Linked DNA regions of Homo sapiens. The protein of the gene in region 2 interacts with the protein of the main gene of each other region in a pairwise test. Each region holds a gene or a part of one and is shown on either strand. Other genes may lie near its edges.

Region 1 (7,812 bases), on a different chromosome or scaffold from region 2:
ACACTTGGGTCCCCTCTTTCTAATCTTTGCTGCTTTCGAAAGGAAGCGTTTGCATCTTACCTTGCGGCGGGTATGCTCTGAATCCAATGCATCTCTCAGCCCCTGAAAATCTGGGGGATTGAGTGGAGGCCCTGGCCGAAGGCTGGTGTAGCGGGGAAACAGCTCCTCCAGGGCTTGGGCTGAGCTAGATGGAGACAAGTCTTGCAGGGGCCGGGTGCTGAGCAAATCAGGTAGAGAATGTTAGGGCTGGGAAAGCTTTTGGAATCCACTTGTCCAACTGTGATATTCTACAAATGAGGAAACTGAGACCCAGAGAGGGCAAGAGACTTGTCCAAAGTCGTAAAGCTATATAACCATAGTGCTATAAATAACACACAGGTCTGTGATTCACTTAAAGGTTTCAGCAGAAACAAGCTAACTCTTTAGAGGGGAAGAATGACTGCAGGTTAAGAGAAAGCCAGGTACTAGGCAACAGATACCTGTGTTCCTGAAGGAGTAAAGGGGGCAGGAGACAGTAGAAAAAGATGAAAACTGAAAGGCAAGTGATAAGCCTCTTGGGTTCTTAAGAGGTACAAAAGCAATAAAGGGAGAAATAAGGAACAAAACACCTGGATTTCCAAGAAAGCAAACAAGCTAGGAGAACCACAAGGAGAACTCACTTGAGCAAGGTGGCTGTGCTATCACTGTCAAAGGAGTCCTCTTCCCGTCTCTCTGAGCCAGCGCCAGGAATGAGAGGATCCCCTGCAGGCAGCCAGAGGGACCCCAAAGCCAGAGTCAGGTAATGACAAAAACAGGGGCCACCTGAAGAGAAAAGGCCTTCCTTTCCAGTTCCCTCACTCCTTCACCCCCTCTCCCAAAGAACGGGAGACTTTTCTCCTGAAATCTCTTGCTCAGAGGTTTTCCTGCCTGCTTCCTCTGTCCACTTTCTCCCACCCCTTACATCTAGGTTCTCCTTCATAGTTCTAGGGAAGGGGCTTACTCACGATAGGCTGTATCACGTGAGGTTTGGAGCATGGTCTGGAGCTGACCCCGAACACTTTCCATCTCAAAGATATGCTTAGAACCATCCTGGAAAAAAGCCACATGGAAATCAGATGCAGTCTGTGTTATCTATCTCCTACCTATTGCCAGGGTAGAATTTTCACTCCAGCACTTTGGAAAACAAGAAAAACCAAACGGATCCAATAAGGGATGTCCTAAACTTGAATCAGAAATTCAAATACTACAGAAGCCAGAAAGAGAGTGTAAATAAAATAATCGAGGAGGTATAAGACAAGAGTTGCGGAGATTCTTGCCGATTCAAGAACAAATGTAAGGACTGTATGGCTTATGGCTATCATTTTCAAACTCTGGAAGACCTAACCAGTCTGCAAATTGACTCTGACACCTTTTCTATACAATACTAATAACTATCTTCTCTGTAACATGTTGTAGTTGACTAAGCTATGTCTTAATGATGTACATGCCAAAGTTGGAACCATACTATCAACATAGTGTTGAGCTGGAAGGATCGGAGCTGCTATCCTAAGTCCCTAGCTCCCTCTTGGGATCAAGAAACCTTACCCATTCCCAGTGCACGGGAAATAGCTCACCAACCTACCCCATAGGTTTGCTCTATCTACTCGGAGCAGAGATGTCTCTCACAAAAAAACACTGGGAAGTTTCATAATTTTCAAATTATGGTGTCCCAGGTCACTCCCTCCCTTATAAGCATGGCTGCCTATGCAGTTAAAAGGAATATGAAATCCAACAGGAAGAGTTCAAATCTCATCAAAGCTTTTTATTTTTACCAACCCCAATCCCAAGACTCTCTGGTGTCTAGTGCCACAGTGGTCTCCAAGACACACTTCCCTCACCTTTTTCTTCAAGTTCTTTTCCAATCCGACTGACAAGCTTCGACTCAATTCTTGGGCGAAGCCGTCTAACCCTTCATGAGGCGGGGAGGTGGAGGGTAAATACAGCTGGGCTCGGGCCGTGGCCTCCGCCTGCCGGCTGAGGCGCAAAGAAGCATAGAGCTGGGAGGTCACTTCAGACGACACTTGGTTGAGCCCAGGGGGTTCTGATGAATCACTCAGGAGATCCTCCGCCCCGAGGGGTGAACTGGGGCTGTCAGCTGATGTTGCCATGAATACAGGGAAGAGACAACCGGAGACAGCAAAGAGCTGGGAGGTTCTGCTTTAGCAAAGTCCAGGAGGAAAAGTTCACGGAGAAAGACTTGGGAGAAGGGAGGAAGACTCCACGCCAAGGATCCTTGGTGAATTAAGGATATCGAGGCTTTCTGGTTAGAGGAAAGGTTTCCACCAGTTCCAGGGGCCATGGGAGTGGGCAAAAGCATCCCTTTCCCCAGCTCCTGGGAACAGCGTTAAGAGGGTGCAGCGCAGAGCGGGTGCGGACAGAAGACCTACTGTGGGACAACAGCGCTGCTGAAGCTCCTCTTCCCGACTACGAGTGCTGGAAGCTGCAGATCAACTCCGGCACAGGCTATCCCCGGTCAACTGAGCTCTTAAGTTCTCACACCCAAAACGTCCCAACGGAAACGGACCCAAATCCACTAGGAGCCCAATTTCTGTCCCCCTGCCCTACTAGTCCCTCAATTGGTTCCAGTCTCAAGAGAGGGCGGAACCTCACGCTCCCCCATCCCTTCACCCGTTCTACCCAGGGTCAGCTCCAGCTCCCTTGTACTTTCCCTTCGACCCCTCCTGGCAAGAAAGCCATAGCGAGCTTCCTTGTTCCCTAGAATCTCTCCCTCCCGACCACCCCAAAAGAAACCTTGTGAACCCTCAGTCACGCCCTAAGTCGTCCCTAAGAAGCACGCCGCCCTCAAGCCTAGCCCGAGATCCTCTGCCCCGACGACCACCTGGTTCCGCCTACTCTCCACCCTTCCAGTCCTCAGTCCCCAATTTGCCAAAGTGGGGGGCAAGCGATTGACCTCCTCCCCTGAGATCCCCCTCTCACGCCTCCCCCTACGCTCAAAACCGTTGGCAGCCTCCCGCCCACTGTCCACGGCTCCGCCTCTCTCGCCTCGATGACGTCACCCGCCCGCGAGACCACGCTCGCAGACACTCACATCACTTCTGTATCCCGAGCGCCTGGCCGCGCGTGCGCGGCTCCGGTGGCCACAGATTGGCTGAGGGAGGGAGGCGGAGTCTGACAAGCAGCACTGGAGCGGAGTTAATGCCCAGCCGCGGCCGAGCGAGAACCCCCCTAAGGGGCGGAGCTCCGTGGAAACCGGAAGTAACTCTTGACGGGCACTCGGAGCAGTTCCGGTGAGTCCGTGGGTGGGGTCCCCACCTGGTTGGAAGGCTGTGGGTCCGGGAACCCGAGCCCAAGGAGTGGGGGCGGCCCCGGAGCGAGGCTCACACTCCCTGCCCTGCAGATGACTGTCCACAACCTGTACCTGTTTGACCGGAATGGAGTGTGTCTGCACTACAGCGAATGGCACCGCAAGAAGCAAGCAGGGATTCCCAAGGAGGAGGTGACGAGAGGGCCCCGGTGCAGCCCGGGCGACCTCTCATCTCCAAACACCTATAGTCCCAACCCAGCCCCTCCTCTCCAAACCCCAGCTCGTTCCCACCCCCCACCCCATCTCCCGCATCAACCGAGAGCTAACTCTGCCCCTCTCCCTCCAGGAGTATAAGCTGATGTACGGGATGCTCTTCTCTATCCGCTCGTTTGTCAGCAAGATGTCCCCGCTAGACATGTACGCGGAGTCAGAGAAGATGTTGGGAGGAGGGCTAGCCTTGGGAATTTGGGGATGGGGGAAACTTTCTGAAGTGGAAGGAGCATTGGCCTCCAGAGGGGGGAAAGGGTACTTAAGAGAGGCTGAGTCCGGAGCGAGAGTGCTGGAGCTGGCAGGAGTGGGGGTGGGGAGGGTCTGAAAGTAGAGAAGTTGGTGGGGGCTAAATTGAGGGGTGACGATGGGCGATGTCTTTACTCAACCAGGCTTCTACAAAGGATATGTTTAGATAAAGAGGGAGTCGATGTTTGCGGGGATCAGAAGTGTCTCTTTGGGAGAGATTCTGCTCCCATTCTTTAACACCCTCCTCATCTCTGCAGGAAGGATGGCTTCCTGGCCTTCCAAACTAGCCGTTACAAACTCCATTACTACGAGACGCCCACTGGGATCAAAGTTGTCATGAATACTGACTTGGGCGTGGGACCCATCCGAGATGTGCTGCACCACATCTACAGTGCGGTCAGTGCCAGCCCCAGGGACCCATCCCCCAGAGCTCTTCAGAACCCCAAGACTCCCTCATCTCCCCTGCCCCAATCCTACTATATGTTTGCTCAACTCAAGAGTTTTCTCAGGGGCCCTTAGGTTCTTAACTCCCACCACCACTTTCTCCTCAGAGAGGGCTTGCCTTCCAGCCCTTATTCCTTGTGCATTCACACACCCCTGAGGTTATACAAGGTTTGGGGCTAAAAACCAGAAGTATCCAAAGCCTGGCTCTAACATCTTCCCTTTCCATAGCTGTATGTGGAGCTGGTGGTGAAGAATCCCCTGTGCCCGCTGGGCCAAACTGTGCAAAGTGAGCTCTTTCGCTCCCGACTGGACTCCTATGTTCGCTCTCTGCCCTTCTTCTCCGCCCGGGCTGGCTGAAGCAACCTACCTCAAGTCTCAGGAGAATTCATGTCTGCCTGGGGCCCTTCCGAACCTGTGCCAACTAAGGGCCCCCACTGTAAGCCCCCGCACCCCCACCCCCTGCCCAGAGCAACAGCCTAAAGGCCTGCCCTGATGCTCTCCTCCTACCAGAGTGAAGCCCACAGAGTCCCTCCACCTCCACACCAGGCCCTCTCTCCAGTTTTATCCCCTGCCTAATGCTGCGAGAAGCACAGAATAAACTTTTTGTCACTCTCTGCGGCCTGAGCGTGTTGGTTTGAGGGCCCTCTCAGTCCTGCCCCACGCATGAAGGTGGAAAGTAGGGCAGCCACACCCCCTGGAGGGCCACGAAGTGGCTTTGCGGATGGGTTTCTCAACCGTGGGAATATTGATGCTTTGAGCTGGATAATTCTTTATTGTGGGGACCGTCCTGTGCTTTGTAGGATTTTAGCATCCCTGGCCACCACCCACTAGATGCTGATAGCACAGGCATGAAATCAAAAATATCTCCAAACCTTGCCGAAAGTACGCTGGGAGATACATTCCCTCCCGATTGAGAATCACTGGGCCGGGGGAAGCCTGACAGCCCTTGGGTCCCAGAGGGTGCAGGAGCCATCCTCCCCAATTCCGCTCAGAAAATATTCAAGCTGCAGAGCCTTCAGCAGGCGGGGCTTATGCAGATGAGCGGCAGGTTTGGCTGAGAGGAGGGCGGCTCTATGCAGATGAGGAGGCGGTGCCTGCATGCTGATGAGCTGGGCCCGCTGCCGACGCGGCTGGGAGCCCAGCGGGTCCCGCAGCGGTTCGCGCTGAAGTGGCATCTCTCTCCCGCCCCGCTTCCCCCTGGGTCCTTATCCTCCGAGACCTTTACCTCATCCTCGACCTTTACCCTCATCCATTTCCCCCTCCTAATCCTTGCTCCTGTGTCCCCCGTAACTGAATATCTCCACTCCTGGCGCCCCCCACGTTTCTTCCCTCCCGCCGCAAACCTCGCGACCTCCAGCAGCCCGCCCCCGCGGGCCCGATCCTGCCTGGCGGCTCCCGCCGCAGCCTCCTCAGCCTTCCCGCTCTGCCGGGGTTCGCCCCACTACGCCCCCGGTCGTCAGCCCTCGGGCTTCCCTGCTCCCCCCTCCCGTCCCCTCGGAGCCCCCTCCCCCGCCTCGGCCAGCCAGCATGCAGGTGTCTATCGCGTGTACCGAGCAGAACCTTCGCAGCCGGAGCAGTGAGGACCGTCTGTGTGGACCCCGGCCGGGCCCCGGGGGCGGTAATGGTGGGCCGGCCGGCGGGGGGCACGGGAATCCTCCGGGGGGTGGAGGGTCTGGCCCCAAGGCCCGAGCTGCACTGGTTCCCCGACCCCCAGCGCCCGCTGGGGCCCTCCGAGAGAGCACCGGCCGAGGCACTGGCATGAAATACAGGTATGGGGGTGGCCGGGCAGCCCACCCCTTCCGCTTTCCTTTCGGGACCCCTGAGACTGCTTGAGATGGCCGCCAAGACCCCTTCAAACTTCACTAAGTAGGTCTCCCTTCTTTCCATCTCTTCTTTCTGTCTCTGGCACTCCCTCACTTTGTCCCTCTCTTGGTTTCTGTCGATACCCCTGACTACGAGAATCAAGTTTACCAAGGTTGACTGGGTCCTGTCAGACCCAGGGGATGCCCCTGAGCTTCCCTCCTTACCCCTGGGAAGGTCAGGGATGCATGGATCTCCACGCTACACGGATCTCCAGGCTATGCCTCCTCCAGTGGAGTGTCCTTGGGTCCGTGTCCTGGGGAGTGGAGGGAGGGAATCAGCTTCTCACTCTGGCCTGCTCGGGGTGCCTGACCCAGATACTGCCCCTGCCTGCCCCAAAGGCTAGGTCTTCTGCGACCTTTCTTGGGTGCAAGGGGAGTGGGGCCGGTGGGAAGGATGGACCACATTTTTCATCTCCATGCTGAGGGACAGGGTCTGGGTAGACTGAAATGTAACTGACTTTATCTCAGAGGACTGCCAGACCAGAAGCTCAGAACCTGAAGTAGGGGGTAGAGGAGGGGCTCCTGCTTGGGAGTGAGCTGAGGTCACTGATCTGACCTGCTTTGTCACCTGAGGAATCTGATCCCCTCTATATGGTGGCCCTGATTGGAAAGCTGAGCTGACACCTGGGTTGGGGGCTTTGGGAGGATGAGGGGGCTCACTGGTTCAGAGACAGTCTTCACAAGTCAATAGGAACAGAGGGAGTGGAGAGGGAGAACTAGGCTTTTCTGTCTTACTCTCCCCCCTCCCCCCAGGTCCTCAATCTGCCTTTCCTCCAGGCCCATCTGCCTAGCCTAGCCAGGGACCCCTGTCTGTCTGAATGCCTGAACTTGACTTGGTTTACCTCTTCCAACCTGCCATCTACCATTTGGCACAGCACTCTGCCTGAGGGCCTGGTCTCACAAACTCACCACAATCAAACAAAATTCCTCCCAGCCCCTCACTGCACACAACCCACAGATGACTCAAACACAGACAAGACCCCAGAAGAAGGACAAACCAGACTGCACGTCTTCAATGTGATAAGAGGGAATGGAGACTCTGGACAGTGGCTCCAGAGGAACAGTCACATATGGTTCACTTGTCCTTTTGAGAAAATTCCTAGGACCTCTGCTCTGGAGATAGCACTTGCCCAATCTTATAGGCCCACTGGGTCTAATTTCTTTGGACTGAGACACCTGAGGGCTTCTCAGTCTGGAAGGAGAGGAGCTGGGGGCTGATAATCTAAGTCCATAATGGAGGCTCCACCCCTTCCCGCTGCTTCTGTATCTTGCAGGAACCTAGGGAAGTCTGGTCTTCGGGTATCCTGTCTTGGCCTAGGTGAGTCAGAATAGGGATTAAGGAAAGGAGGGCATTCTTTCATGGTCTGCCCCCTGCAGTTCTCATGTGCCTGGCTTCTCTCTTGCAGGTACCTGGGTCACATTTGGTTCTCAGATCTCAGATGAGGTATAAGTTATCGGACCTAGAATCAGGGTGGTGGGGGTGAGGGAACTTGAAAAAAGGGAAGTGAACCTGGATAGGGGTTTGGACAACAAGCACAGGGAATGAGGGATCTGAGGCTGGAGGATGGGGAGAGGGGAGAGACTAGAGAACCCAGGGCTGAGATGTGATGGGTTAGAGTACAGTGAGGGAGGTAACTGAGGAGCAGTAGTTGATCTTTACCTCTTTCACCTCCCTAGACAGCAGAGGATGTGCTGACTGTAGCCTAT
Region 2 (7,022 bases):
CATGGTGGTGGTGCCTGTAATCCCAGCTACTCGGGAGGCTGAGACAGGAGAATCTCTTGAACCCAGGAGGCGGAGGTTGCAGTGAGCCGAGATGGCACCATTGCACTCCAGCCTGGACAACAAGAGCAAAACTCCATCTCCAAAAAAAAAAAAAAAAAAAAAAAGGATCCTCGTCCTGTGTTACATTTTCACTGTGAAAGCTACCAAGAACATTTTGATGGCAGGTGACATTAAAAATATTTTTTGCTTTTTTGGGTTGAAGGATTGTACAGGGGACAACTGAGATGCCTCAACATGTACCTTGCAAATGTTTGATATTTCTCAGTTGCCTGTTACCAGTTCTTACAAGCTCTATAGTTGGTATCTTGTTTGATAACAGCAAGTTTCGATCCACCTGAGGATGCCCAATGTGCCTTTGCCTTGTTATTGCTTTGTTCTTTCTTGAAATTTACTGAAAATAGAGGGGTTGTGAAGTCCTTTTTTCTCTTGTGTTAGACTAAATGAGTCTGAAAATCTTGAGGGTTTTAGTTTTGTCTGCTTTTAAATCACCCCTAATAACCCAAAGTAAAGCAGAAAGACAGGATTTGTTCTTCCAGTTAGTGCTAGGCTTTGAGATAAACACACCCACAGTGACTTCCAGCCTCATCCTTATATGTTGGCTTTGTAGAGGTCCTGGGACACCTTTGTTCCCTTGGTGACCTCCTTTACTATGTGGGTTCTGAACTGTCTAATGACATCACAGGAGGAGTTTTTCTGCTTTCTTGCAAGTATGCTAAGAAGTATATGTGCTGCCGCTCTATTTTCATTTCCTAAGGACAGTGTTCTGATGTTGGATGCTTCTCCTGGCTTTACTTAACTGTAGTAGACACATTTGACTTTCCAGCTTGTTAAGCAAGTTACCTAACCTGATTGGGTTCAGTTGCAATATCTGTCAAATGGGGAGAATAACATCCACTTTATAGAGTTGGTTAGTGGGAATGAAATGAGGTAACGTGTAAGAGCTTAGTGTAGTAGCTGACACACAATAGATGGTATGTGAATATTCCCAACCTACCCCTTCCAAGGAATGGCATTATGAGAGAACCACTTGTTTTTGACCTTTTCAGTGATTTAAAATTTTCCTTTAAGTGAAGGAATTGGCATTAGTCTTTGCACCCATAGCTTGGGTGGCAAGAAACACAAAATTTTTCCTGAGTTGGATGATGGTGGTGATAGGATTTGAAGTGGGGGATAATTTTCACTCATCTATGAAGGTGAGACTCCCTAGATATGCCACTTGGCCTCTTACTTGATCTCAAGATTATCACTTGTGATCCAATTGCTCTGTCTGGTGACCATGTTAAGTAATGATTGAAGTAGAATGACCAGAAAAACAGACTTGTTACTCCACCTAATAGCAATATGGCATACCAATTATAGTCTGGGCCACACATGGTAAAAGCAGATCTTGTTATATAATATTTAAATGCAAAGGTAACCACAGTTATCTATTTTAAACTACTTGTATTTTGAAGCACTCCTTGTATGGTAAGTATGTTTAGATACACGTAGACATTTCCTAGAGAAAGGTTTGGCCAGTCATAACTTTTGTTAGAGCAAGTAGGAATTGGCTGAGGAATATCTGGTTGAAGATCAAGGGCAGAACGCTGAAAGCTGTCAGTCGATGAATGAAATGATAAGTATTTAGTGAGCTTTCATAGTGTTCTAGACACTATGACTAAGGACTGCACATGGTTTGTCTCTGAATCCTCATAGTTTGTGAAGTAGAGACAGGACCAAGTTCCTATTTTGCAGATGAAGTAACTGAAGTTTGGGGAGGTTTTTGACTTATTCAAGATCACTCATCGAGTGACAAAGCCAGATTGTCAAGCCTGTCTCTGACTCCAGAACTCCATCTTAACAGCTCTGCTGTACTGATTTTGACCTAGTTTTAGGAACTATAGGAAGGAAATGTGATCAAACCCAGATCACTTTTCTAATCTACCCAGGCATTTTGTGTCCACCGTTAACATCCAAGCTCTGATTCTGGCAACTTGAAATTACTCTTGGCTTTACACTTATGTAGAAGAAAACAATTCTGTTAAACACTGTGGCCCTTCTGGAAACATGATGGTCTTTTCCTGTAGAGGCCTTTTCTTCCTTTTACTTCCTCTGTGCCAGGTCCATGGGTAATTCCCCTAAAATTGGTACCTTTCTCATAAATTCTATCAAAACTAGGGCAAAAATGATAGTTGTTGATGGCTTTTATCAGAGTTGGTAAGTTTTGATTCTCTTCTCTACATCTTATTTCCCCTTGGTGTAGCACAGTGGTTGAAAGCAGGGAATCTAAAGCCACAGACCTGAGTGAATCTTGCCCCACTTGCATCTTGGGACAAGAAACATAACTTTTATGAGCCTATTTTCATACTTGTAAAATAGGGATATTACTTACTACTGTAAATAGGCATAATACTTATACTCATTACTGTAAATGGTTAGCACTAAGCACTTAATAATCAGATATTCTTGTTAAAGTGAATTTGACTATTGAAATTAATGTTTTCTTCTCTGCAGCTATTGAAATATTTGAAGAAACTCTCCACCCTGCCTATTACAGTAGACATTCTTGCGGTAAGAACTGTGTGACTTTAAATATTATATAATGATATCCCATTCCCTTCTCACTGGAGAGTGTGTAGAATAAGGTTACAAGTATGGGCTTTGGAAGTGAAAGAAACCAGACACAAAAGGCCATATATTGTCTGATTCCATTTATATGAAATGTCCAGAATAGGCAAATCCATAGACAGAAAGTAGATTAGTGGTTGCCAGGGGCTAGGAGAATTGGGAGGAACAGGATTTCTTTTTAGGGTAATGTAAATGTTCTGGAATTAGATGGTTATAATGGTTATATAATATTGTGAATGTTCTGGAAACCACTGAATTATGTACTTTAGTTAAAGTGGTGAATATTGTTAAATGACTTTATTTCAAAATTAGAATTAAAAGAACATTGACTTTGGCATCAATTAGTCCCAGATTCAAATCTGAGTTCTATGACTTTAGGCTGTTCCTATGTAAAATGGGTCTGATTCCTGCTTCACAGGGTTATTGTAAAGACTGATTCAGAACTGTATGCAAAGCTCTTATCTTAGTGCCTAACACCTGCCCTAATCACTCTTGTTATTAAAGTTCTGAACTTGGTACGCTTTGCTACTGTGTGTCATTAGAGATTTGGGGCATAGACACAAAGTAATTTAGTGTTAAGATTTGCAGGGTATGTTGTAGGAAGGAAGTATTGCTTGTTGAGTTTCTCAAAGTAGAAAGCCTTATTTCTTTAGAAAAACGTTAGCCTAGTTCCAGACCCCTCTAACAATTACTTTGTCAAATTTTAGGAGACTGGGGTTGGGAAAACAGTAAATAGCTTGCGAAAACACGAGCATGTTGGAAGCTTTGCCAGGGACCTAGTGGCCCAGTGGAAGAAGCTGGTTCCTGTGGAACGGTAAGAACATTTCTCTTTAGGTTTGTTCAATTTCATGGTTAAATTTACAGATAGAAAAGGTTTTCTTTATTATTTCTCTTTTGCCTTCTGAAATTGTTTTGCCTCAATTATAAAAAATAATCCATGATCATTGTAGAATATTAGAAAATATTAAAAATAGAAATCAAAATTTCCTATTTCTATCACGCAAAGACAAACGTTATGAACATTTTGGTACGTTTCTTTTTTTTTTTTTTTTTTTTTTTGAGACAGAGTCTCGCTCTGTTGCCCAGGCTGGAGTGCAGTGGCGTGATCTCGGCTCACTGCAAGCTCCGCCTCCCAGGTTCACGCCATTCTCCTGCCTCAGCCTCCTGAGTAGCTGGGACCACAGGCACCCGCCACCACGCCCGGCTAATTTTTTGTATTTTTAGTAGAGACAGGGTTTCGCCGTATTAGCCAGGATAGGATGGTTTTGATCTCCTGACCTCGTGATCTGCCCGCCTCGGCCTCCCAAAGTGCTGGGATTACAGGCGTGAGCCACCGCGGCTGGCCTGGTATGTTTCTTTCTAACTGCTCCTTAAATGGCATTTTTTTAAGTTGTGAACTAGATAAATAGTGAGCAGCCCCCATTTTATATAACAAATTAAACATGTCCCCATGTTTTAATAAATCTCCACATTTTCATGTATATGAGATATTTGATCTTTGCATCTTGTGGTTAAACTCACCATTTCTCATTTGGGTTTTCCCAGTTTTAAGATTTGAGTATCTTTAAGCATAACCTACTTATCTTCTTCTTAAGACCTTGTTGTTTCTAACTCTGCATCTTCACTTCTTTGGTGAGTTCAGATTCTGTGACTTTGTCCCTCAAGAAGCAAGATTTAGACCTACTTTGTCTGCTTTTTCTTTTATTTTAGAAATGCTGAGCCTGATGAACAGGACTTTGAGAAGAGCAATTCCCGAAAGCGCCCTCGGGATGCCCTGCAGAAGGAGGAGGAGATGGAGGGGGACTACCAAGAAACCTGGAAAGCCACGGGGAGCCGATCCTATAGCCCTGACCACAGGCAGAAGAAACATAGGAAACTCTCGGAGCTCGAGAGACCTCACAAAGTGTCTCACGGTCATGAGAGGAGAGATGAGAGAAAGAGGTGTCACAGAATGTCACCAACTTACTCTTCAGACCCTGAGTCTTCTGATTATGGCCATGTTCAATCCCCTCCATCTTGTACCAGTCCTCATCAGATGTACGTCGACCACTACAGATCCCTGGAGGAGGACCAGGAGCCCATTGTTTCACACCAGAAGCCTGGGAAAGGCCACAGCAATGCCTTTCAGGACAGACTCGGGGCCAGCCAAGAACGACACCTGGGTGAACCCCATGGGAAAGGGGTTGTGAGTCAAAACAAGGAGCACAAATCTTCCCACAAGGACAAACGCCCCGTGGATGCCAAGAGTGATGAGAAGGCCTCTGTGGTGAGCAGAGAGAAATCACACAAGGCCCTCTCCAAAGAGGAGAACCGAAGGCCACCCTCAGGGGACAATGCAAGGGAGAAACCGCCCTCTAGTGGCGTAAAGAAAGAGAAGGACAGAGAGGGCAGCAGCCTGAAGAAGAAGTGTTTGCCTCCCTCAGAGGCCGCTTCAGACAACCACCTGAAAAAGCCAAAGCACAGAGACCCAGAGAAAGCCAAATTGGACAAAAGCAAGCAAGGTCTGGACAGCTTTGACACAGGAAAAGGAGCAGGAGACCTGTTGCCCAAGGTAAAAGAGAAGGGTTCTAACAACCTAAAGACTCCAGAAGGGAAAGTCAAAACTAATTTGGATAGAAAGTCACTGGGCTCCCTCCCTAAAGTTGAGGAGACAGATATGGAGGATGAATTCGAGCAGCCAACCATGTCTTTTGAATCCTACCTCAGCTATGACCAGCCCCGGAAGAAAAAGAAAAAGATTGTGAAAACTTCAGCCACGGCACTTGGAGATAAAGGACTTAAAAAAAATGACTCTAAAAGCACTGGTAAAAACTTGGACTCAGTTCAGAAATTACCCAAGGTGAACAAAACCAAGTCAGAGAAGCCGGCTGGAGCTGATTTAGCCAAGCTGAGAAAGGTAACCCCTTCAGCCCCTTGGTGGCTTCCCACCCAGAGCACCTGGCCCTGCAGAGCTCAGAGGATTGCCCTGCCACTGTTTTCCTTAGCTTGCTTTTGGGGGGCATGTTGAATTTCAGTGTGCAGTAATTTCCTCTGGGCTTCACTGGTTGTCAGGGTATATGGTACCGCAAATAAGAATTTTCTGCATTATTCTCTTGTGATGGGCTCATCTGTATTTATTTCCTGACTGAGGTGGTGTCAGACATGACTGTGGCCCCCTCCAACCTGGATCTTCCTGTGCAAGATGTCCAGTTAATGCTCCCGGGAATAGACTGTAGGAAAGAGAGCTGTGCTTCTACTCACTGACTCTCCACCCATGGGTCTGTCCCCTGCAGGTGCCTGATGTGTTGCCAGTGTTGCCAGACCTCCCGTTACCCGCGATACAGGCCAATTACCGTCCACTGCCTTCCCTCGAGCTGATATCCTCCTTCCAGCCAAAGCGAAAAGGTAATTTTCTATATCTTCTTTTTCTTAATGGGAAAAAGATTTAAAAATTCATTCAAGGCAGGGTACAGTGGCTCACACCTATAATTCCAGCACTTTGGGAGGCCGAGGTAAGAGGATTGCTTGCGGCCAAGGGTTCTAAACCAACCAGGCGTGGTGGCTCACTCCTGTAATCCCAGCACTTTGGGAGGCCGAGGCGGGCAGATCACCTTAGGTAAGAAGTTCGAGATTAGCCTGGCCAACATGGTGAAACCCTGTCTCTACTAAAAATACAAAAATTAGCCAGGCATGGTGGTGCGTGCCTGTAATCCCAGCTACTCCGGAGGCTGAGGCAGGAGAATTGCTTGAACCTGGGAGGTGGAGGTTGCAGTGGGCCGAGATTACGCCATTGCACTCAAGCCTGGGTGACAAGAGGGAAACTCTATTTCAAAAAAAAGGAGTTCTAAACCACCCTGGTCAACACAGCAAGATGCTGTCTCTACAAGAGAAAAAAAGTAGCCAGGCATGGTGGCACATCCCAGGTACTCGGTAGGCTGAGGTGGGAGTATCACTTGAGCCCAGGAGTTCAAGGCTGCAGTGAGCTCTGATTGCATCACTGCACTCTAGCTTGGGTGACAGAGCAAGACTGTTTCAAAAACAAACAAAAAAACTATCACCATAACATCAGATTTTTGATGCATTTCCTAAGTGCATAGACTCTGAAGTTTGATGGCTTGGGTTTGAATCCCAACTCTGGTTTCTGCAAGTTATATGACCTTGAGAAATATCTTAATTTCTTTGGACCTTAGTTGTATATATTGTGTAAATGGGAGTTATAATGGTATCTGCCCCATAGGGCTCAGTTTAATGAATTCAGAAGTGATGCCTTTTTGCTCTGGGTTTATCACATAGTAATTGTTCAGTAAATTGCTGCTGCTGTTATTAGCAGCCCTTTATCCTATGTGTTACATAGGATTTTTGTCTGAAAGAAAAAA
Region 3 (7,022 bases), on a different chromosome or scaffold from region 2:
AAATATCGCCGTTTTATGTGTGTTCATGGCCCTGTCTGCTGCTAAGTAAATAATAATGAGTTTACACATGGTATACTTAATAAAAATTGATTGGTGTTCCAAGAAAGATTTTGAAGCAAAATCCTTATATTGGCATTTTTATTAACATGTGATTCTGCATAGTACTGTAAACCTTGCTGAGTTCTAAACGTGACATTATTCACATACTACCCAGTAATACCCACATGCAGTCTAGCATTTGAATATTCACTATAGGCCTCAGCTCTTACAAATACTAATTAAATGATTTGTTTTAAAGATACACATGTAGGCTGGATGCGGTGGCTCACACCTATAATCCCAGCACTTTGGGAGGCCGAAGCGGGTAGATCACAAGGTCAGGAGTTCGAGACCAGCTTGGCCAGTATGGTGAAACACATCTCTACTAAAAATACAAAAAAATTAGCTGGGTGTGGTGGCACATGCCTGTAATCCCAGCTACTTGGGAGGCTGAGACAGGAGAATTGCTTGAACCTGGGAGGTGGAGGTTGCAGTAGGCTGAGATCACGCAGTGGCACGCCAACCTGGGTGACAGAGTGAGACGCCGTCTCAAAAAAAAAAGATACACATGTAATGAATAGAGTTTGAAAAATGTATTTAATAACTTTTTTAAAAGAATAATGTAGATTTGGGGAATTCCAGAGAATTCCAATTCATTGTTTTTGAATCCTGAAGGTTGGTATTTGTCGGGAATTCAGAAACACTACTAATAAGAGGTCAAATTTGTGCCTTGAAGTTCAACTCAGTGTGTTTTAGTGTTTTCAGCAACAGTTCCATGAAGGGCCACAAGGTGGAGGTGGTGCTTCACAGAACTAGCTAGTTTTGGCCTCTTTAACCGTCTCTGCTCTTTTTCTTTTTCCCCTACTTCATAAAATTGTTGTAAACTCTTCACTCTTTTAGAACAGGAAAGTTTGTTTTTTTGTTTTTTTGTTTTGCTGAAGATGGAGACGATTTCTAAATATTTAAGGCTGAAATAATGCTAACCAAACTCTTCTTAAAAAGAGAAAAGGAAGAGTGTACCACTGAAGCCATGTGGGGCCACAGTTGCCTTTGTTGGAAGCTTTTTAAACTAGAGCAGATTTTATTTCTTTAAGAGTTAAAATACCCATCGATTTTTCCTTGAGTAACCTTTGGTAGTTTGTACCTAGGAAAGAATTTGCTCATTTCATCTGTTTTTGGTTTCATGAGCATACAGTTACTGATAGCATTTTATTATATTTTACTGTTTATAGAACCTGTAGTTGATGTCCTCTTTCATTCCTGATATTGGAAATTTTGTTTGCTCTCTTTTTGTTAGTGAATCTACCTAGAGGCTTTTTTAACTTTATCGATCTTTTCAAAGAAACACCATTTTGTTTCATTGTGGTTTTTTTGTTTTTCTGCTGATTTTATTATGTTTTTTATTATTTCCTTCCTTTTACTTGCTTTGAGTTTAATTTCCTTTTTCTAGTTTCTTAAAGTAGTAGTTTAGATTATTGATTTGAGATATTTTCTCTTCTAATATAAATAATGTCATACCTTTCCTTTTAAGCACTGCTATAGTCACATCCCACAAATTTTGATATGTTTTATTTGTATTTAATTCAGAATGTTTTTTATAATTCTACAAAATTTTCAACTTTTTTCCTTTTATCTATTGTCTCTCCTTTGTTATTTTTGCTATCTCTATGGCATTCTATTTGACACAATTTAGACCAGTCCCTTTATCCCCTTCATTCTTAATTCTTCCTTCCTTCCTCTGTCCCTCAGGGTCTTGTGTTCTGTTACCTAGGCTGGAGTACAGTGGTACAATCATAGCTCACTGCAGGCTTGAACTCCTGGGCTCAAGTGGGCCTCCCTCCTCAGCCTCCCTAGTAGCTAGGACAATTACAGGTGCACACCAATGTGTGCCTGGCTAATTTTTAAATTTTTTTTTTTTTTTTTTTTTTTTATAGAGATGGGGCTTTGCTAAGTTGCCCAGGCTAGTCCCAAACTCCTGGGCTCAAGCGATCCTCCTGCCTCAGCCTTTCAAGTAGCTGGGACTACAGGCATGTGCCACCAGGCCTGGCTGATGAGCATTTTATCTAGCTTTAAAGCCCTTAAATAATTCCAGACATCTGTGTCATCTCATCATTGATGTTTGTTGGTTGTCTTTCCTGGTTTTTCATATGCTGAATAATTTGGGGTTGTATCCTGAACATTTTCATTAGGTTTTTTTTTTTTTTTTTAATAAGACTCTGGGTCTTGTTTTAATCTGCCAGTTTTGCTGTCATTCAAATTCAGTCTTCATCAGTATGCCTGTTTCTATTTACTTTTCAAAGTAAATAACTATGAATATCCTTAAATAACTACACTACCCATCTCTCCAGGTTTTATTGCTACTTTCAGTGGAAAAGATAGAGTGGAATGTGCTTGCTCCATTGTACCTAGAACCTTCCTTCCAGAGAGGATTTTACTTTTGCTTTATTCAAATAACACTAGCTCCTGAACAATTTTTATGTTAATTTCTTAAAATTTGAACCTCAACCTTAAATCCCAAACCGAAATTAGGCACATAAATCTTACTTTGAATTTTGAGGTAAGACTTTTTTCCCCCTCTTCAGAGCCCAGTAGAAACAGACAAAATTCCTTGCTGTTTTCCTATGCCAGTAGGCAGACATTTTTCTAGTCTGTTCTTTCAATAGGAATTTTAGCATTGGCCAGGCATGGTGGCTCATGCCTGTAATGCCACCACTTTAGGAGGCCAAAGCGGGTGAATCACTTCAGCTCAGGAGTTGAAGACCAGTCTGGGCAACATGGCGAAATCCCATGTCTACTAACAAATTACAAAAATTAGCCAGGTGTGATGGCACAGGCCTGTTGGGAGGCTGAGGTGGGAGGATCATCTGAGCCCTGGGAGGTCAAGGCTGTGGTAAGCCATGATTGCACCACTGTACTCCAGCCTGGGTAACAGAGTGAGACCCTGTCTCAAGAAAACAAACAAAAATTTTAACATTATGCAGGGGGTGGAGTTTTAGTCTCACTTTTAATTCCCTTTCTGTGGGGGGTTCATTTTTCTATCCCAAGGCAGTGTTTAAAAATCCTCACAGGAAGCTCTCCAGGGCAACTGTGGTCCCTGACCCACTAATGAAAGTTCCTTATCTTTCTTTGTTTCTGACACTGTGGATTTCCTTTCTGCCTTTTAATGTGCTTGTTCATTAAAATAATGTTTTACATTTATATTTTATCTTGCTATTTGTAAGGATTTGTAGCAGAAAGATTTTCAGGTTTTCTTGATTGCTATCTTGCTGAAACAAATACTTTTTATAGAATTATTCTTTTAAAAATCAACTGATGTGGCCAGGCACAGTGACCTGTAATCCCAGCACTGTAAGAGGCTAAAGTGGGAGGATCTCTTCTCAAGCCCAGGATTTCAAGACCAGCCTGGGCAACATATTATAGCAAGACCCTGTCCCTCCAAAAAATTTTTAAATTAGCAGGGCATGGTGTCATGTACCTGTGGACCTATCTACTTGGGAGGCTAAGGCGGAAGTATCCCTTGAGCTTAGGAGTTTGAGGCTGCAGTGAGCTATGATCAGGCCACTGCAGCCCAGCCTAGGGTGACAGAGCGAGACCCTGTCTCTCAAAAAATAAAAATAAATACAAATCAACCGACATACACAAAAAAATTAGATGCCCAATTAGAATACAAACTATTATTAGAATTGCCAGAATTTCTAATATTCATACACCATGTGGATTTGTATAACACATTTATATTTATGTTTTAGGCTAGGGAATATAATTATGTCTATAATGAATCAGGATTAAAAGAGTTCCTGTTATCTCTTGTGACTGAAAAAAAAACAGTGTTTGATTTGGAAAAAAGTATTATCAGTATAATAAAATTAATGCTGGTTTCAAATAATAACTTTCAGGTACTATGGAAAGGGCAATTTTAAACTTTGAGAACAGAAATAAAACCACTCTAAATAGCTAAAGAGAATCGAGGTTTGTGCGGTTACTTTTGTCTTTGTTTTGTTAGTGTTTAGTTTGTTGAATTCTTGGCATTCCATGTAAAATTCAATAGGAATCTCAGTTTAGCAGATACGGAGATTTCTGTTTCCTTTTACTTACAGTGGTTTCTTTTCAGAAACATGTTCTCCTTCCTTCCTGCCAGGAATGAGTAGCGACAGTGACATTGAATGTGACACTGAGAATGAGGAGCAGGAAGAGCATACCAGTGTGGGCGGGTTTCACGACTCCTTCATGGTCATGACACAGCCCCCGGATGAAGGTGCAGCACATGATGTCATTTTACACAGATTACTAAAACCACCGCTGCCGCTTCTCTTTCTTCTTCTTCTGCTGCTGCTACTTCTACTTTTTCCGCTCTACTGCTTTTGCTTCTTCTGCTTCTACTTCTTTTTTTTTTTTTTTAATTATTGTCATTTGTGAGACAACATTCTTTGGTTAACTATTATGGTGAGTACTAAAAAAACACAGCCAGTAATATTTGGCTTGGTTGCACCTAATGAGTGCTACTTACTGGGCAGAGACGGGGTCCACAACCTGCTTTTGTATAGTCTGTGACCTGAGAATGGTTTTTACTTTGTAAAGAGTCTTTAAAAACCAAGCAAAAGAAACAAAGAAGAATTTTCTTTGTGGGTTTTTTTTTTCTTTTTTTTTTTTTTTGCCCCGAGATGGAGTCTTGTTCTGTCACCCAGGATGGAGTGCTGTGGCGTGATCTTGGCTCACTGCAACCTCCGCCTCCTGGGTTCAAGCGATTCTCCTGCCTCAGCCTCCTGAGTAGCTGGGATTACAGGTATACACCACCACGCCTGGCTAATGTTTTTGTATTTTTAGTAGAGATGGAGTTTCACCATGTTGGCCAGGCTGGTCTCGAACTCTTGACCTCGTGATCCACCTGCCTTGGCCTCCCAAAGTCCTGGTATTACAGGCGTGAGCCACCGTGCCCAGCCCAAAGAAGAATTTTCAAGAGAGTCCATTTGTGGCCTACAATGCCTAAATATTTACCCTTCATAGGAAATGATTGCCAATCCCTGGGGAGATTTCAGATGTTTGGGTTTTTTTTCCTTTTCTAGCCTACTGTAAGATAACTTTAACCTTTTAAAATAAAAATAACTTAGAAATACATGCAGATTATGAAATAATTTTTATTCCCTCCTACCCCCAAAAAAGTTATTAGGAAAAAAACAAGAGAAACCTACTATTAATATTTTCCCTTGTTTTCTTCTGTCTTATTTGCATTGCATTTCTTCTTCTTTTTTTTTTAGACAGAGTCTTGCTCTGTCTCCCAAGCTGAAGTGCAGTGGCACAATCTCAGCTCACTGCAACTTCTGCCTCCTGGGTTCAAGCAATTCTCCCACCTCAGCCTCCTGAATAGCTGGGACTACAGGCATGTGCCACCACATCCAGCTAGTTTTTGTAATTTTTAGTAGAGACAGGGTTTCACCATGTTGGCCAGCCTGGTCTCGAACTCCTGACCTCAGGTGATCTGCCCACCTTGGCCTCCCAAAGTACTGGGGTTACAGGTGTGAGCTACCATGCCAGCCCTACCTAAATATTTTATAAATAGTTTTTTATTCTGCTTTTTTCACTTAAATATATTTGTATGTTATTTAAAATTTCATAAACTTCATTTTTTATGGCAACCTAATATTCTATCATGTGGATATACCATAAGTATTCTGCTGTCAAGCAGTTTTCTGGAATACAGATTAATCAGTAAAAGGATATACTGTCAAGTTAGAGAAATACACATTTAAAGTTACCCAGAGGCCTTAATAATCAATCTGAACATTCCTCTGCAAGATATCCTGGAGTGACAACATTGTTAAGCCTATGCCATTTTCTGCTTTATATTTTGCATATTTTCCTGGTGCTCTGGTATCTTTTTCAATACAGAACCAAGCATTTGATGATTTGTAAGTATTAAGGCATCTTTAGTAACTTCCTCTGCTTCTAAAATAAGCATCCAAATTTTGTGCAAGTTATTTGGAGTGCTGGTGGGTTTTTGTAGTGATACTTGAATGCGTAGTTTAATTGGCTTTGAAATATGTTTTATGTTTATAAGGTCTTGAATCTTGAGAATATACACCATTGCTTCTTGTTCCCTTTTTAAGCTGTCCCCAGATTGTCCCCAGGAGGACAAAATGAGACAATTCCTGTCATCTTTTAATTGTGGGTGTCTATTACACATTTTGTTTTTTTCTCCTTTATTTTTCCTTTGTGTTTGCTTATACCTGACTCAGATCACAAATTCTCTGAAGACAGAGATTTGTTCACAACCCAGCACATCTTTATCACTTAAATAACACATTTGGTAAGATTATTTAAAGACTTGGGAAGGAAAATACTGCCCTTGTTATATGCTTTTAAATTTTAAATTTTTTATTTATTTTTTAATCATAGATACACATTCCAGTTTTCCTGATGGTGAACAAATAGGCCCTGAAGATCTCAGCTTCAATACAGATGAAAATAGTGGAAGGTAATTGCCAAATCAAGAGAACTGACTTGCAAGCTACCTTGACCCTGAATTTTGCTGTAGTTGGTGCTCAAATTTGTCATCAGTCAGATAATCAGATTTGGTCTTATTTCTTCATTATCTCGACCTGAAATAGTAATTTGGAAACTGTTGGAAGGTGGCACAGTTTAGTCTAAGACAGCAGTAGTACATGGGAAAAACAGTATGGGAAGAGTTCTTTGTAATGTAAGGAAATAACAATGTAGTTCTCTATTAATTTAGCAAATTTGTACATTCACAAAAGGCAGTTTGTCTACTACAGCAGAAGGCTGGTTAACTGCCAGAAAATGTACCTCCAGGCCCTGCATGCCGTCAGTAACCCGCCCGGCATTGGTGCTCTACTGTCTTTGGCTAGAGCTTAGTTGTGTTTAAATAATCATCTTTATATTTGGGGTTTTAATTACAGTTCCATTAGTGCCTGTAGATTAGTGAACAGAAAATTGCTTTGGAAGAGATTCTGCCCTGTAGACACTAT
Region 4 (7,192 bases), on a different chromosome or scaffold from region 2:
CAGGAAAGTACTGCTTGTTCTCTGTGGAGGAGATGATTAAAATAAAAATCCCAGAAGGACAGGAGGATTCTCAACACTTTGAATTTTTTTAACTTCATTTTTCTACACTGCTATTATCATTATCTCAGAATGCTTATTTCCAATTAAAACGCCTACAGCTGCCTCCTAGAATATAGACTGTCTGTATTATTATTCACCTATAATTAGTCATTATGATGCTTTAAAGCTGTACTTGCATTTCAAAGCTTATAAGATATAAATGGAGATTTTAAAGTAGAAATAAATATGTATTCCATGTTTTTAAAAGATTACTTTCTACTTTGTGTTTCACAGACATTGAATATATTAAATTATTCCATATTTTCTTTTCAGTGAAAAATTTTTTAAATGGAAGACTGTTCTAAAATCACTTTTTTCCCTAATCCAATTTTTAGAGTGGCTAGTAGTTTCTTCATTTGAAATTGTAAGCATCCGGTCAGTAAGAATGCCCATCCAGTTTTCTATATTTCATAGTCAAAGCCTTGAAAGCATCTACAAATCTCTTTTTTTAGGTTTTGTCCATAGCATCAGTTGATCCTTACTAAGTTTTTCATGGGAGACTTCCTTCATCACATCTTATGTTGAAATCACTTTCTGTAGTCAAAGTATACCAAAACCAATTTATCTGAACTAAATTCTAAAGTATGGTTATACAAACCATATACATCTGGTTACCAAACATAAATGCTGAACATTCCATATTATTATAGTTAATGTCTTAATCCAGCTTGCAAGTGAATGGAAAAAAAAATAAGCTTCAAACTAGGTATTCTGGGAATGATGTAATGCTCTGAATTTAGTATGATATAAAGAAAACTTTTTTGTGCTAAAAATACTTTTTAAAATCAATTTTGTTGATTGTAGTAATTTCTATTTGCACTGTGCCTTTCAACTCCAGAAACATTCTGAAGATGTACTTGGATTTAATTAAAAAGTTCACTTTGTAAGAACGTGGAAAAATAATTTTAATTTAAAAATGGTGTTTTTAGGCCGGGGGCGGGGGCTCACGCCAGTAATCCCAACACTTTGGGAGGCCAAGGCGGGTGGATCACCTAAGGTCAGGAGTTCAAGACTAGCCTGGCCAACATGGAGAAACTGCATCTCTACTAAAAATATAAAAATTAGCCGGGTGTGGTGGCTGGTGCCTGTAATCCCAGCCACTCGGAGGCTGAGTCAGGGAGAACTGCTTGAACCCAGGAGGCAGGAGGCAAAGGTTGCAGTGAGCCGAGATCACGCCAGCCTGGGCGACAGAGCGAGAATCCATCTAAAAAAAAAAAAAAAAAAAGTGTCTTTAAAGTGAGGTATAGTCTTTCTCTGATCCACTTTTCACCTTCTGAGGTTTTTCATCTTGGCCCCTGAAAGGAGCTATTTTTGAAGGACTTGTGTTACTCAGTTTCTACAGGAATTACAAGATAAGAAAAAAAAAATCATATTTAGTCTTATGCGTGCCTACTGGCTAATGTTCACATATGCCAAACACTACTCAATAACATAAAATAATGTATGAACTTATTCTCTGGAAATGAGTGATGCCCTCTGCTCTAAGTAGACCATTTATATTAAATATCATAAATGTATAAAGGACATTCATATTCTTATAGTGGGAATACTTGCCTTTTTTGTTGATTTTATAGCATCCATTGTATTTTGGTGAGTGAAATAATAAGAATTTTTTAGTTTAGTGTTGTTTATTATAAAAGCTACAGCTACTGGTAGAAGCTACTTATGTGAATATTTAGTCACTCCAGTTACTTACAGGAAATAATACTACCACTTCAATGCCTTCCCAGAAGACCACAGAATCTCCACATCAGCTTTGTCTTTGGAAGCATGGTGATTTTTTTGGTAGAAGTTTTATCTTTAAATGATATGTAGCTTAGCCAAAATTTTAAAACAAATAGCATTGATTCACCAGAAGATTTCTAGAAGGTGGGATAAAGTCACCCTGGACGAATGTTTGTCATATTGAATTAGCATGACTTTGAGATATAATTATGTTTGTTTTTCCCTCCCACTGTCCACTTACATTTATTCAGTGGGCAGTTCTTCCCCTTCTTCAGATGTAAATTCAGATAGAGTCATGACTTTTCTGTTCACTCTTAGGTTTTAAAGTCCTACTGTGTAGTCCCTTAAGGTCATAAAACAGTGTCATTTTAGTAAGTAATATATCCAGTCAAAATTGCAAGCTTGATTTACAGTTGATGCTTCTTCCCTCACTCACCTCTGGCCTATTGCAAGTAGGAAGCTGGTTTCTGGGGAAAGGGAGACCATGGGCTTCTCTTCTTTTTCCACCTAGGTTTCCTTCAATGTTCTCCCCCTGCCCCAACCTACCATGTCTGGGTTGTAGCAAAGAAGAGAGTTAAGGGGAGCAGGAAAGTTGTTACCTGACTGTCATTGCTGTGGTGGTAGAGGATCAGCCCTATGTGACCCTGACAGACTAAAGTTGATTCTTGTGGGCATTCTTGTGGGTTCCTTTGTCAACCTCATCACGCTACTCACCTGAGGTTCCTCTGGCAAGGCAAATGTGTACTCCTTTTTCAGCCTCTAGGAATTTGGTGACTCTTTGAGGTTCTCAGTGCTGAAGTTCATTGCCTTCCTCCCAGGCCTGTTGGGCAGGACCTAAGCTGTCTCATGGTGGTCCACATCTGCTCCATGGGAAACACCTGCACGTTCTTTGTGCTGGCAAATTCTGTGTATGCAAGCTGATCCCTCTGCAGCCATTATTCTCCGCCTCCCACCTCCACCCCAAGCTGCCTCGGCTAGCCTCTCTCGGTTCAGATTTCTCATGCATGAATCAGACATTAGTCCACGGGGACCCTCAAACTACGTATACTGCCAATGGGAGTCTAAATTGGTACCTTGATGCAATCAACCCAGAGAGCAATTTGGTAATAGCTAACAAAGTTGCAGATTTCGCAGCAAATTCACTTTTGGGAATCTGCTTGGTGAATCCATTGCACATGATGTTCATTGCTGCTCTGTAAGGCCGTTAAAGTAGAAATAACCTCTCTCACTAAGGAATGTAAAAACAAATATGGGTCAGTCATACAATGAGCAGTGAAAATTATCTAGCGATTGACCAAATGGATAAATCTTGAGAGTATAATTTTGAGAGAGGAGAAAGGTGCACAATGAGAGGTACAACTATGATTCCATTCCATGATATGTCTAAACATGCAAAAGAAAATATTATTTATGGGTATGCATATAAGGACATGCATGGACATGATATACAACATTCTCAGCACAGTGATTGCCACTGGGGAGGGAGACAGAATGAGATGGAGGAGGTACGCAGGGGCTTCTGCCTATATGTATTGTTCTATTTAAAAAAGAATGAATCATTGATTACACCTCAATAAAGCTGGGAGGAAAAAAGAATGAAAGCAAGTCTGATAAAATTTCAAGCTAGTGGTCGGTCCACAGGAATCTGTATTACTCTATTTGAAATATTTTCATTATTTTACTTAAAAAGTAACAGAAGGGAGTCAGGGAATGAACGCTGGCTGTCCGGAGTCCATCACAAGAGCTGCTACTACTCCAAGCAGACACTAGTAAATTTTGCTAGGGCCTCCTGAAGGCACTTTTGAGTCCAGACAGTCATGGTGCCAGACCCTATTCGGACATCCCACTGGCACTTGAGAGGAAAGGAAAGGAGTGCCGGGAACGTTCCCATAACTTAACGGGTTCCATTCACGTCTACAGCAGGGGAGGGCTCATGTTAAGGAAGCCCAGGAATCCAGCATATCGCCTCATCCTAGGGCCCCCTCTCACAGGAGGCCACGCCCAAGCAAGCAGAGCGTGGCCCCAGCAAGCGCCGAGCTCCCGCAAGGAGACCAAATAGCTTCGGGGTTTTGCCACTAGCTTAGCACAGGCCCATAAGCACCGGGGACTCAAGGCACCTTTGTAGAAACAATGAGTGACTGGAGTCCCAGGTCTTGCCACTACAGAGGCGCGTATGAACCACGGTTTAACACTACGTCTACGCCGAAGTTCGGGTTAGTCAGAGGCCACGCCCACCGCAGGCCCGAAAACACCAGCCTGCACTGGCGCGCCGGATTGTGCGCAGGCTCCACCTGCCACGCACGCACGCCTTGCCCCGCCCCTTCCGGAGGCTCGCCGTACGCATGCGCCCTCCGTCCCGCGCTTTGTTGCGAAAGCGAGGGGGCGAGGTGCTGCGGTGCTAGAGCGCGGCGCGACCGGACGCTGCGGGCGGGGAAGAGGATGGAGACTGTGGCGTCCGCTGCAACGGTTGGGGCTGCGCGTGAGAAGGTGGCGGTGTAGGCACCTGCGCTCGGGGAAGGCTGGCGGCGGCGGCCGAGCCATGGCGGGAGACCCCCTTCTCTGGGCTCCCTGAAGTCTCGGGGAGCCGTGACCCATGGGATCGTTGAGCAGCCGGGTGCTGCGCCAGCCAAGACCAGCCCTTGCCCAGCAGGCGCAGGGTGCCAGGGCGGGGGGCTCGGCCCGGAGGCCGGACACTGGAGACGATGCGGCGGGCCACGGATTCTGTTACTGTGCGGGCAGCCACAAGCGCAAGCGGAGCAGCGGGTCCTTCTGCTACTGTCACCCTGACTCGGAGACGGACGAGGATGAGGAGGAGGGGGACGAGCAGCAGCGGCTCCTCAACACCCCTCGAAGGTACGTGGGGGCACGCACCCGCGCGGACCCGGACCCGCACCTGTTGGGCCTGGGGCCGAGCCGGCGCCTCGTGCGCTTGCGGGGTGCAGCGCTCCCCAGCCTATGGAGAGGGGACGTGCCCTTGACAGGGTGAATGTGGAAGCCGGCCCGATGCGGGGCGGACTGGGGAGCGCCTTGGGAGACGCCAGGTGTTCCGCATTTTCAACCACAGACGCTTCCAGGGTGTTGTTACAGCCCCAAGATGAGGATGAGAAACGCCAAGCCCGAGCTCGCGTCTCGTTAAACCTTAGAGACGCCCGGCTGGCTGGCCTTCCCAGTCCACCTTTGCCCTCTCAAGTGGGTAGCCGCAGAGTAAGTTGTTTTGCATCCGGTTGCCTTAGTACAGACACTAAATGTAATCTCTGAAATAGGCACTCTTATTGTCGCCCACTCAGTGGAGGGTAAGTAATTGCACACAGGAGTTCTTGTTAATTGTAAAGGTGAAGTTTATCAATAGTGTACATTTGTTCCTAACTAGGAACAGAGTCTGTGCAAGTTTCTAGTAGTTGATGAAGTCGTTGACCGTGGATGTACTGTATGTAGGGCGGTGCTGCTGCAGCTTGTTTAACCCCTTTTTTTTTTTTTTTTGGATGAGTTGAAAGATGGAATATTGACTTGTGACCTGGAATGTAGTTTATAGGTAGAATATATGCTTACACAAACAATTTGGTTTTTCTGCTTTTGTTTTTAAAGGTTATTTGGTAGGGTCACACATGAAATTTTTTAAATGATTTCTTTTTCTTTTTGAGACAGAGCCTTGCTCTGTCACTCAGGCCGGAGTGCAGTGGTGCGATCTCAACTCACTGCAACCTCCACCTCCTGGTTCAAGCGATTCTTGTGCCTCAGCCTCCCGAGTAGCTGGGACTACCGGCGCGCACCACCACGCCTGGCTAATGTTTTCTGTTTTTAGTAGAGACAGGTTTCATCGTGTTGGCCAGGCTTGTCTCAAATTCCCGACCTCAGGTGATCTGCTGGCCTCAGCCTCCCAAAGTGCTGGAATTATAGGCGTGAGCCACTGCGCACCCGGCCTAAAATTAAACTTTAAAAGCAGATTCAAAAAGGTTTTGCTATACAAGTGTTATATATTGTAAAAAAGGAATCATAGATTAAAAACTTAATAGTTTGGTTTATAAAACCTTTTGTACCTTTTTTTGTATGAATATTTGTATTTATTATACAAAAATGTACCCCTACTGTGAATACTATTCAGTAACTTTTTTAATTGTTTGTTTGATTTTTGGAGCTTTTTTCTAAAGGAGTCTCACTATATTGCCCAGGCTGGTCTCAAACGCCTGGGTTGAAGCGATCCTCCCACCTAAGCCTCCCAAAGGGCTGAGATTACAGGTGTGAGCCACCATGCCTGACCCTGTAACCTTTTTGAAGCGTCAGTGTAGCATAGTTTTTTTTTCCTTTGGAAAAATTTTTCTCTATTTTGAGACAGGGTCTCGCTGTGTCGCCCAGGCTGGAATGCAGTGGTGGGATCATGACTCACTCTACCTCGACCTCACAGAATCAGGCAATTCTCCCACCTCAGCCTTCTGTGTAGCTGAGACCACAGGCATGCACCACCACACCCAGCTAATTTTTTTATTTGTAGAAACAAGGTCTCACTCTGTTGCCCACCCAGGCTGGCCTGGAACTCCTGGGTTCAAGTGATCCTGTTGCCTTGACCTCCCAAAGTGTTGGGATTACAGGTGTGAGCCACCATTGCCAACCTATAGCATAGTTTTAAGAGTTCTGAGTTCTTGGCCAGGTGCAGTGGCTCATGCCTATAATCCCAGCACTTTGGGAGGCTGAAGCAGACAGATCACCTGAGGTCAGGAGTTCAAAACCAGCCTGGCCAACATGGCGAAACCCTGTCTCTACTAAAAATATAAAAACTAACCAGTCGTGGTGGCAGCTGCCTGTAATCCCAGCTACTCGGGACGCTGAGGCAGAAGAATGGCTTGAACCTGGGAGGCGAGGTTGCAGTGAGCCAAGATCGCACAACTGCACTCCAGTCTGGGTGACAAAGTGAGACTCTGTCTCAAAAAAAAAAAAAAAATTCTGACTTCTTGTCTGTATTCTGCACTTAATAGCCTTATTTCCCTCATATGTAAATTGGAGATATAAATACCTGCCTTTTAGGCTTTGACAAATATGAGAACAAACAAATGCACAATGTCTAGAATGTAAGCATGCAGTAAATATGTCTCCTTGATGAATTGGCCCCTTTATCATAACAAAATGTTCATCCTTCTTTATCCCTAGTAATTTAGCCACTACCACATACATACATACATATATACATTTATTTATTTATATTTAGGGGGTACAGCTGCAGGTTTCTCACATGTATATAACAAGTAGTGGTGAAGTCTGGGATTGTAGTGTATCCATCAGCCACTTTCTTTTGATAAATGTCTGAATGATATCTTATTTTCCCTCCTTTCACTTTTTACCTGTGTATATTTAAAACAGATATCAAGTAAACAGC

What was found.
Region 1: the proteins of ELOA (region 2) and CNTROB interact in binary tests that used the Homo sapiens proteins (3 or more experiments, as listed by UniProt).
Region 3: the proteins of ELOA (region 2) and TRIM37 interact in binary tests that used the Homo sapiens proteins (3 or more experiments, as listed by UniProt).
Region 4: the proteins of ELOA (region 2) and GMCL1 interact in binary tests that used the Homo sapiens proteins (3 or more experiments, as listed by UniProt).

Annotation. Positions count from the first base shown.
Region 1 is NC_000017.11:7,927,394-7,935,205, reverse strand, and holds the start of CNTROB (centrobin), read right to left. Parts: upstream 3,001-7,812; 5' UTR 2,127-3,000; coding exon 1,857-2,126; intron 1,069-1,856; coding exon 984-1,068; coding exon of another isoform or gene 980-983; intron 742-979; coding exon 660-741; intron 218-659; coding exon 61-217; intron 1-60. Other genes in the region: TRAPPC1 (trafficking protein particle complex subunit 1), read left to right, coding at 3,377-3,475, 3,630-3,700, 4,057-4,195, 4,472-4,600; KCNAB3 (voltage-gated potassium channel subunit beta-3), read left to right, coding at 5,771-6,012, 7,380-7,423, 7,512-7,549, 7,783-7,812. UniProt on the Homo sapiens protein: Required for centriole duplication. Inhibition of centriole duplication leading to defects in cytokinesis.
Region 2 is NC_000001.11:23,746,468-23,753,489, forward strand, and holds part of ELOA (elongin-A), read left to right. Parts: intron 1-2,553; coding exon 2,554-2,610; intron 2,611-3,374; coding exon 3,375-3,481; intron 3,482-4,377; coding exon 4,378-5,563; intron 5,564-5,939; coding exon 5,940-6,051; intron 6,052-7,022. UniProt on the Homo sapiens protein: SIII, also known as elongin, is a general transcription elongation factor that increases the RNA polymerase II transcription elongation past template-encoded arresting sites.
Region 3 is NC_000017.11:58,998,870-59,005,891, reverse strand, and holds part of TRIM37 (E3 ubiquitin-protein ligase TRIM37), read left to right. Parts: intron 1-4,136; exon of another isoform or gene 4,137-4,150; coding exon of another isoform or gene 4,151-4,177; coding exon 4,178-4,294; intron 4,295-6,432; coding exon 6,433-6,515; 3' UTR 6,516-7,022. UniProt on the Homo sapiens protein: E3 ubiquitin-protein ligase required to prevent centriole reduplication. Probably acts by ubiquitinating positive regulators of centriole reduplication.
Region 4 is NC_000002.12:69,825,476-69,832,667, forward strand, and holds the start of GMCL1 (germ cell-less protein-like 1), read left to right. Parts: upstream 1-4,184; 5' UTR 4,185-4,417; coding exon 4,418-4,677; intron 4,678-7,192. Other genes in the region: ANXA4 (annexin A4), read left to right, coding at 1-40. UniProt on the Homo sapiens protein: Possible function in spermatogenesis. Enhances the degradation of MDM2 and increases the amount of p53 probably by modulating the nucleocytoplasmic transport.